3 linked regions of the Homo sapiens genome follow. The protein of the gene in region 2 purifies or fractionates together with the protein of the main gene of each other region. This does not show direct contact. Each region holds a gene or a part of one and is shown on either strand. Other genes may lie near its edges.

Evidence for each region.
Region 1: the proteins of C20orf141 (region 2) and FUNDC2 purify together in Homo sapiens (affinity purification with mass spectrometry; one large-scale study listed by BioGRID and IntAct). This does not show direct contact.
Region 3: the proteins of C20orf141 (region 2) and CCDC12 purify together in Homo sapiens (affinity purification with mass spectrometry; one large-scale study listed by BioGRID and IntAct). This does not show direct contact.

What each region holds. Positions count from the first base shown.
Region 1 is NC_000023.11:155,033,217-155,036,871, forward strand, and holds part of FUNDC2 (FUN14 domain-containing protein 2), read left to right. Parts: intron 1-186; coding exon 187-337; intron 338-3,655. UniProt on the Homo sapiens protein: Binds directly and specifically 1,2-Diacyl-sn-glycero-3-phospho-(1'-myo-inositol-3',4',5'-bisphosphate) (PIP3) leading to the recruitment of PIP3 to mitochondria and may play a role in the regulation of the platelet activation via AKT/GSK3B/cGMP signaling pathways.
Region 2 is NC_000020.11:2,813,723-2,816,467, forward strand, and holds C20orf141 (uncharacterized protein C20orf141), read left to right. Parts: upstream 1-1,264; 5' UTR 1,265-1,295; exon of another isoform or gene 1,296-1,429; 5' UTR 1,430-1,462; coding exon 1,463-1,722; intron 1,723-1,815; coding exon 1,816-2,053; 3' UTR 2,054-2,108; downstream 2,109-2,745. Other genes in the region: TMEM239 (transmembrane protein 239), read left to right, coding at 2,613-2,693.
Region 3 is NC_000003.12:46,966,624-46,970,278, reverse strand, and holds part of CCDC12 (coiled-coil domain-containing protein 12), read left to right. Parts: intron 1-3,655.

The sequences.
Region 1 (3,655 bases), on a different chromosome or scaffold from region 2:
TAATATAGACATTAGTATTTGCTGATTTTAGTCTGATTTTCCAAAATTGCAACTTAGAATAAATTTACTATTTAAAATAGAATATTTGGAGGTTTCTTATTACATTTATGTCTGTTTCTTTAAATATCTCAATCTAGTTAGGTATAAAAGTAAATATTTTCTTATTTAACGTATTACTTCTTGTAGGAAACTTTGAGGGAAATTTTGAGTCACTGGACCTTGCGGAATTTGCTAAGAAGCAGCCATGGTGGCGTAAGCTGTTCGGGCAGGAATCTGGACCTTCAGCAGAAAAGTATAGCGTGGCAACCCAGCTGTTCATTGGAGGTGTCACTGGATGGTAAGTGATGTGAAAGATGTCCACTGTCTTTTGTGCATGATTTAGTATTGCAGTTATAGGTACCATCATCTCCTTTAACCAGTGAAAACACATTGGCTTCTGTGAAATTGGTCACTTAATGTGGAGCATGTATCTAAACATCATCTTAAAGTACCATTTAATGGTTACACATAATGATTGTTTCCTATATGCCAGGTTCTGTTTGAAGTATTTACATAGATATCTCATTTCCTTCTCACAACTCTGGAATTAGTACTGTTATTTTCTATCCTCATTTTATAGAAACTGAGGCTCAGAAAGGTTAGTTTGCCCAAGGCCACATAGCTGGTAACTGGTAGAATAAGGAGCTAACTACTTATTAGCTATGTCAGATGATAACTTAATGTGACACAGCTTATGGTTTCATTTGTAATAAATTCAAAAAGTAATAGCAAATTTCATAGGTGAATATTGAATCCATTAATCTCATAGACTCTTTACATTTGAAAAATTTTATAGCACCATATAGCAAATATAGAACAGCACATTTAACAGGTGTACATTTTAGCAAATACTTGGAGTGAACACCTATGTAACAACTGCTAAGGTTAAAAAAAACGTGGCTAGCGCCCTAGAAACTCGAGAGGTTATTAAGCAGTTATTTCATTGCTTTTCTTTGTAGTTTTAACACCAGTTATGTCACTAAATAACATACTGTGGTTTACCTGCTTTCCACCTTAAAGTAAATGCAATCAGTATGTATTCTTTTGAGTCTTGCTTTTTTCGCTCAACCTGATGTTTCATATATTCAACTACATTGTGTATAGTTGTAGTTTCTTCACTTTCACTTGTATTTTGAGTTCCATTATGTGAATATACCACAGTATATCCAGTTGATGACTGATATTGGAGTTGTTTCCATTTTTGGCTAATACTATGCTTATATGAGTATTAGATTTCCCAGTGTATATGTGCATACATTTCTGTAGGGTCTGTACCTAGAAATTGCTAGGTAATGGGTATAGGTATCTTCAGCTTCACTAAATAATGTCAAACCACCTTCCAAAACTGTTTTTAACAGTTTACAGTCCCAGCAAGGACCAAATGAACCTGTTGTTCTACATGGTGGCACTTGATTTTGCCAGGCTATTAAATTTTTAAAAAATTAGTTAATTTTTCCTTAGCGAGGTAATCAAGTTAAATCCAGACTATAAAAATTTTACCAGTCTGGTAGTTAGGTAGTAGTATTTCATGGTGGCTTCATTTACATTTCCCTGAGTAGGAGTGACATTGATCGACTTTTACGTATGTTTGTTGACCATTTGGATCTCCTCTTTCAGTTCCACTCTAGTTTTTTTCCTCTGAAGTTGTCATTCTTTCCCTTGTTAAGCTGTAAGAGTTCTTTATATATTCTGAATATTCTCAGTCCTTTGTTAGTTGTGTGTATTATAGATATTTTCACTCATTCTGTGGTTATCTTTTCGTTTTATGGTATCTTTTGATGAACTGAAGATCTTATTTTTAATATAGTCAATTTTATCAATCTTAACCTTAATGGTTAGTGATTTTTGTGGCTTATTTAAGTAATCTTTGCCTACCCCATGTTTCAGAACTTTTATTATTTGACCTTTCACATTTAGATTTATTATCCACCTGGAATTGTTATTGTGCTCAGTATGTGGTAGATTCCTTCTTTTCTTCCCCATGTGGAATACCCATTTGTCCCAACTTAATTTATTGTGAAAGCTATCCCTTTCCCCGCTGCTTTATGTGAGTGTGTGTGCGCATGCATATGTGTGTGTCTGCTATCTTGTTCTTTAGGAACATCTTGGCTATTTTCTTTATCTCTTAGTTTTTAAATTTAATAAATAGGTATATTATAAGTTGCACATATTTAAAGTATAAAATTTGATACATTTTTACATATGTACATGCCCATAAAACCATCACCACAGTCAAGATAATGAACATACCTATCACTTCAAAAGCTGCTTTGTACCTCTTTGTAATTCCACGCTCTTTCCTTCATGCCATCCTCCCGCCACTGATCTGCTTTCTATTACTATAGATTATGTTTTCTAGATTCTTTTTAGAAGTGGAATTACATAGTATATATTCTTTTTTGTCTGGCTTCTCTTATTCACCATAATAATATATTTTTTTGTTTTGAGACGGAGTCTTGCTCTGTTGCCCAGACTGGAGTGCAGTGGCACGATCTTGGCTCACCGCCTCCTGGGTTCAAGCAGTTCTCCTGCATCAGCCTTCACCATAATAATTTTGAGATAATCTGTGCTTTTCTGTTTATCAACAGTTCATTCCTTTTTATTGCTAAGTAGTACTCCATTGTATGGATGTACCACAATCTGTTTCTCCATCCACCTTTGATGGACATTTGAGTTTTTTTTTCACTTTTTAGCTGTTACAGATAAAACTTCAAGTTTGTATACAAGTGTACAAGTCTTTGTATGAACATATGCTTTCATTTCTTTTGGGTAAATATCTAGGAATAGTATGGCTGAGTCACGTAGTAAGTGAATGTTCTAAATTTACAAGTACCTGCCAGTTTTTAAAGTGCCTGTACCATCTTACATCTCCACCAGCAATGTGTGAGGGTTCCAGTTCCTCTGCATCCTTACTAACACTTGGTATTATCTTTTTGATTACGAACATCTTAGTGGGTATGAAGTTGTATCTCATTGTGGTTTGAATTTGCGTTTCTCTAATGACTAATGATGTTGAGCATTTTCACGGGCTTATTTTTTGCCATTCATATATCTTTGATGACTTATTTGTTCAAATCTTTTTCCACATATTTTTATTGGGTTGTTGGTTTTCTTTCACTGCTGAATCGTGAGAGTTCTTTAAATATTCTGGATAGAAGTCTTAGATATGTGATTTGCAAATATATTACTTCTCTGTAGCTTTTCATTATCTGAACTGTACCTTTCAAAGAGCAGAAGTTCTTAATCTTGAAGTGCAGCTCTTTTGTAGCTCCAGCTTTTGGTGTCATGTCTGAGAATATTTGCCTAATCCAGGGTCACCAAGATTTTCTCTCGCTTTTTCTAGATTGTATATAGGTTCGGATTTTATATTTAGTTCTGTGATCCATTTTGATTTACTTTTTGTATATAGTATAAGGTAGGAATCCAAGTTTTTTTTGCGTATGGGTATCTAGTTGTCCCCACATTTGTAAAAAAAAGACTGTCTTTTTCTCCACTGAATTGTCTTTACACCTATGTTGAAAATCAGTTGACTATATGTTTTTGAGCTCTTTGTACTGCCAAATTGATCTAGGTGCCATTATCATGCTGTTTTGATTACTGTAACTTAGGTAATGCA
Region 2 (2,745 bases):
GGAGCTTTAGACTCTCCGATCCCCCCATGCCCTGCAATATGGAGTAGCCTCATCTTGGTGGACTCATCAGGACATGCTCCCCAGGTCTGTATGTCCAGGAATGCAATTGTGTGGATGCATCCAGGATTGATCAGGCTCAGGGAATTGCCAATCTTAAACCTTAATGTTCCTTTACAAGCACAATTGGAACTTAATGCCAAAAAAAAAAAAATTCTGGGATCTTCTGTTATACCCTATCCCATTACGGACAAATCTACTCGTAAAACCCAGCTGCTGGATAAGCAAGAACAGCCAGACCAAGGGCGATCAGTGCATGGTCATTAGGGCTGGTGACCCTCGTCTCTGGGCAAGGCCTGCTGGAGGTGGATATGCAGCCTGATTCTTGTTCTGTCTCCTCCTCTCCTAGGGGCTGTATGGCCACTGTCTCCCATTTTGCCACCCCTACCAGTTTTCCTTCAAAGTATGATATGTGGGCAAAGATTAAGTTCTCTTAATTATGACACATTTCCGCTCTTGCCTCTCAAGTCACTAAACTGAGATGTGCTGGACCCCTATGGCCACCACCCATTTACAGATGATCAGTGTAATCTGATATACTGATAATCCAAGTGACTAAGCCCTTCATTATATGTTCATTTTCCTTAACTCCATTCTCAGACTGTAACCTTAACCTCTAATAAGGGGGTTACTAGGTCATAGTCCTCTTAAGTTCATGTCCTCTACCTCATTACTGGAACCCCAGTATGCATAACACCCCCTATAAACTGTAGTGCTTAGAATACCTGAACAGCCCCCTCCTCTCTCACCCCCATTTAGCAGGTTATGCGGAAGCCCAGCCCCAGAAGCCTCAGGCAGTCCCCTGGCAGAGCCCATCTCTGCAATCTGGAACTTCAGGCCTGAAAAATCCCCTAGAAGGACCCACAGGGAAGACAGCTGGGGACAGAGATATTGAATGACTTCGCCCTGGACCTGCAGCTCTGCAAACTCACAGGAAGAAGAAAGCAGACCTCGCTCCCTTGGACAGATGCCCAAGTAGTAATGGGGTTAGAATGCCTTCCTGACAACTCAGATCCCCAAGGGAGGGCCCTAGGGCAGAGAATCAGCAAAGGCAAGAGGATGAGTCTTAGTTCTCAGAAATCCCTGACTTCCCAGCTAAGCCCCACCTAGGCCACCAGCTGCTTATGAGGTCAGAGCAGCAGCAGCAGCAGCCCCCTCCCTACCCCACGGCCCCACGTGGTAACAGGTCACAATGCCCCGGGTGCCCACTCCCAGAATGCTGACCAAAGTGGGAGGAGGTGAGGAGGGTTTGCTGGGTGGGTATGGGGGAGGGGGAGACTCTGCAGGAGCCTAATTCCCCACTCTGAGCTCACCCTTCTGTCTGCCCGGGCCCTACCCCTTCCCCTACTCTCACCCTTATAATCCTTTTCAGCACTAGGTCTTCCCGTCACCTCCACCTCTCTCCATGACCCGGCTCTGCTTACCCAGACCCGAAGCACGTGAGGATCCGATCCCAGTTCCTCCAAGGGGCCTGGGTGCTGGGGAGGGGTCAGGTAGTCCAGTGCGTCCACCTGTATCCACCTGGGGCCCTAGCTGGGCCCAGCTCCTGGACAGTGTCCTATGGCTGGGGGCACTAGGACTGACAATCCAGGCAGTCTTTTCCACCACTGGCCCAGCCCTGCTGCTGCTTCTGGTCAGCTTCCTCACCTTTGACCTGCTCCATAGGTAAGTGGGCAGCAGCCTGGCAGGTGGGCATTGTAGGCGGGCGGGCCAGTGGACAACTTCCCTAAGCCCAGTCACCACCCTCTCTCTCCACAGGCCCGCAGGTCACACTCTGCCACAGCGCAAACTTCTCACCAGGGGCCAGAGTCAGGGGGCCGGTGAAGGTCCTGGACAGCAGGAGGCTCTACTCCTGCAAATGGGTACAGTCTCAGGACAACTTAGCCTCCAGGACGCACTGCTGCTGCTGCTCATGGGGCTGGGCCCGCTCCTGAGAGCCTGTGGCATGCCCTTGACCCTGCTTGGCCTGGCTTTCTGCCTCCATCCTTGGGCCTGAGAGCCCCTCCCCACAACTCAGTGTCCTTCAAATATACAATGACCACCCTTCTTCATCAGGCCCCCTTTTCTCCTTCCTGGCTGGGCAGGTGGGATGATACCCCTTTCTTCCCAGCCTGAACCTCACAGTCCTATAATATAGGTATCAGATACCTGGATCTGAGTCTTTGGGCAGCAAGAGAAGGTAGGATACTAGCCAGGGAGCCCAAGGAAGAATGTGGCAGCCACCTCAGAGCCTGTGGATTGGGGGCAGCCACTCTGGCCTCCTCTGTGGCTCTAGAGAATGAAGGTCCAGACAGAAAGACTTGCGAGAGAGCAGTTTGGAAAGGGGTGGATATCAGCCAGCAGGGAAAGCAGGAAAGGGACAGGGATCCAGGGAGGGCTTCCCATGAGAAAGCATGAGAAACTACATCTGCGGGGCTCCGAGGCTCCCCTGCCAGCCTGGAGGGTCCGTGCAGAGGGACTTGGGTGGGCCTCACACCCTACAGTGACTCCTCTCTTGGCTGGACCCCACCCCAGCCCGGGTCACAAAGGGGCTCCTCTGGGGAGGGTGGGGGTAGATGAGAGTGGGGACTTGGATCTGCCTGCCAGGCCGTCCTGGGCGCTGCAGGAAGCAACATGACTTAGGTAACTGCCCAGAGGTAAGTCCCAGTCCCTAATTCTGTAGCCCCACCCCACGCACACTGGTGCCCT
Region 3 (3,655 bases), on a different chromosome or scaffold from region 2:
AAAATATCTCATAATGTTTTAGGAAAGTTTACGAATTTGTGTTGGGCTGCATTTGAAGTGGTCCTGGGCCTTGGTCTGCGGGTTGGACAAGCTTGTTATAATCCCAGCATTTTGGGAGGTGGAGGCAGGAAGATCACTTGAGTCCAGGAGTTTGAGACCAGCCTGGGCAATATGACAAATCCCCATCTCCACAAAAAATACAAAAAATTAACCTGGAATGGTGTCGTGCACTTATAGTTCCAGCTACTTGGGAGACTGAGCAGGGAGAATTGCTTCAGCCTGGTAGGGGCAGAGGTTGCAATGAGCTGAGATCACGTCACTGCACCCCAGCCCGGGCAACAGTGTGAGACCCTGTCTCAAAAAAAAAAAAAAAAAAAGAAATATGGCTACTGCGACATTTAATTTTAGTTAGTTTACATTTAAACAGCCACACTTGACTCGTGATTGCCTTATTCGACGGTGCATCTCTGGAGGACTTGCTCCCTTCAGCCTGACTTACAAGAAACTGTGTCTCTACCTGAGCTCCAGTTGTTGAGCGCTAAGGGGCAAGTGGAAACCCAGATGACCATCACATCAGCCTTGGGAGCCCAAAGCTGGGCAGAGGGCTTGGAAGTTGGCCATATTCATGGCTGGTATCTCCATCAGATGCTGATTTGGGGCCATCTGTGTATGTACCCTGTGGAGTTAAGTGCTGGTGATTCAGAGTGGTATAGTTGTGATTTACACACTCAAGAAATGGGAGTGCGGGCCAGGTGTGGTGTCTCACGCCTGTAATCCCAGTACTTTGGGAGGCCAAAGTGGGCAGATCGCTTGAGCTCAGGAGTTCAAGACCAGCATGGGCAACATAACAAGACACCATCTCTACAAATATAAGTAAACAAAATTAGCCGGGCATGGTGGCCCGCTCCTGCAGTCCCAGCTATTCGGGAGGCTGAGGTGGGAGGATTAAAAAACAAACAGAAAGAAAAAAATGCACAGTGCAGAGAGTGGGAGCAATGCCAAGGTAGAAGGCATGCACTAGTACTCTCTGACTTGGGAGTACTAGGGAGGGTCCCTGGCCAGGTTGGGGGAGGGTAAAAGAGGGAACCAGAGGGAGGGGCTAGCAAGTCTTGCTGGAGGAACAGAGGCAGTGGGTGAGAGGCCTAGTATGCTGGGTGAGGAGTCAGACTTGTCCGTGTCCTGATCATGTCTCAAGAAGTTGCCTCTATCTACATCCCATGTGGCCACATCCCCAGGCCCAGCAGCCTGGTTGCAAAGTCAGCCAAGGCGATCACTGCCGCCTGTATTGACAGCTTTTGGCAGGTTGGCAGTCATAACATTTGCGTGGCAGTTGTGGCAGAATCGTGTTCCATCCCTGAAGCAGGACTTTGAAGCAGGGTGTATTGCTTCATCCCTGTCTGATAGACCAGGAAACCCTGGGCTGAAGGAACATCCCACAGTCGTGCTTTGAGTTGTTGCTGACCCTAGATTGTCCCTTAGGCTCTGGCCTTCTATCCCTCTACACCTCTCACCCCCAGGTGCTTGGGAATAAGTACCTCCCGGGAAGGAGCCTCCACCCATCACACATATAAACTGTAACCAGGCTGCCAGGTGGAGGCCTAGTGGTGGAGTGGAGAGAATGGACTTTGGAGACAGATCTGATTTAAACCTCTGCTCCATTAATCGCATCTATGGTACTCAGAGCAAGCCTTGAAAAATCTGAGCCTCTCTCTTGTCTATAAAATCGAGATACAGCTTCTGAACTCATCAGTAGCTAGGAGAACAGAGAAAGATGCTGTCTATGAAGTGTCTAGCTCGAGATCTTGCACACAGGCCTTTTATAAACGTGGATGCCTGTCCTTTCTTCTTTACCCTCTTGTAAGTGGGGACATCCAGGTGGTCCTGCAGCCTTCTCCGCTGGGTGACAGTGGGTGGAACTGGCCCGGTTCCAGTGGAAGCAAAGAGGTCCTTCTCCTGCACCCTGGCTTTACTCATCCTAGCCCTAATTTTTTGAAGATGGAGTGTTAGTGCAAAGTGTTAGATTAAGAAGAAAATGGATTTGCAGTCACAGCCGAGGTGGAGTGTGAGTGCCCGTTCTTCCTAAGGACTCAGCTTTTCTGCCCAAGCTCTCAGACTCCAAGGTTGTGGAGGCAGTGAGAGGGAGAATCTTCTGGGTGGGAGATTTGGGGTTCCCAACACATACCTATGGTGAGCCAGCATTTCCTTCTGAGGCCCTCAATATGTTCACGTATGAAATGATGGTGTTGGATTTATCTGAGTTTCTCAGACCTACCTGTTCGTTGGGTTGTCTTGAGAGACAATTTGCAGTCCTTTTTTCTGGCCCTACCTCAGACCTATTGTGGTCTTGGTATATAGCCTATAAATTCATGCATTCTTAAAGTTCCCCAGGTGATTCTGATGAATTTTTCTGGACATCTCTGATCAGTCCCTGGCATTCTCTCATTGGAAGAAGGATACTTTTTTTTCCCTTGGAACCTTAGCTGCCCATGCTCACTGCAGGAACTCTGCAGCTAGCCACTAATAAGTATTTATTGAGTACCAGCTGTATGACAGGCCCTGGGGATACAGCTATGAACAAGACTTCCTCCTTGCCTCAAGGGGCTTCTATGGAAGGAGTGGGAATACTTAGAAACAAGGAACATGGTGTCCCTGTTTATGTGTCCCAGGAACTTGGGAATGTGGTGTGTGTGTTGGGGAGAGGCTGTGCAGCTGCCCAGGCTGGGAAGACCACCACCTGGGAGTTCTGAGACGGGGATGGAGGAGTGAGATGCCAAGATCTAGGGAAGAGCATTCCAAGCTGAGCAAGACTAGCTTGGCATGTTTGAGGAGTAGGAGTAGAGTGAACAGTGGGAGGTATGGAAGGGGGATGAGGGTGGAGAGGGCCTGGGAGGCTGGGCTAGTTAGAAGGGGGCCTTGCAGACCACCAAGGCTGGACCTCAGGCTAAGGGGGTTGGGGAACCACTGGAGGTCTGAGCAAAGCTGACATGCCCTTGGATGACTGTGTGTGGAGGTAGGAGGCAGCTGCAGGAGCCCAGGTGTGAGGCAGTGCGCACAGACAGGGTTCCTGAGATGGCAAAGTACAGGGGAGAGGGGCTTTGAAGGGGAAGGCAAGAGTCTGGCTTTGGCCACATTAAGCCAGAGATGACTGTTAGACAGGTAAGCGAAGAGAGACATAAGCAGGCATCTGGACTAGAAACAGATACAGGATATCAAGCCCTGGGGCTAGACGAGGCCCTCTGGTGACAGAGCTTAGACCACAGAGACAGAGGACTGGGAGATCATTCTGTGCCCTGAGGCTCGCTCTGCAGGTATTTAGCAGGAGTTAGAAGAATCCAAGGAAACTTGGTGGGGTGGGGCGGCATGAGGACAGTGGGGCTGAGAGAAGCCAGGCGAAGACTGGGGATGGGTTTTGGCAAGACAAGGTGATAGGTGAGCTTGGTCCAGCTGTTTCAGGGAAGTGTGTGGTGCCAGTGGAATCCAGGCCAGCTGGGTTGAGGTGCAGCATGCTGGCCAAAGCCTTCCTGTAAATTAAGCCTCCTTTCCACTGCTTGAAGTCCTCACTGGACCCCAGCCGGGACATCCATCCCTCCTCTCAGGAGGGTAGCGCCAGTCTGAGGCAGTGCCCTTATAGCCTTGCTGTCTGAACTCACCTGGT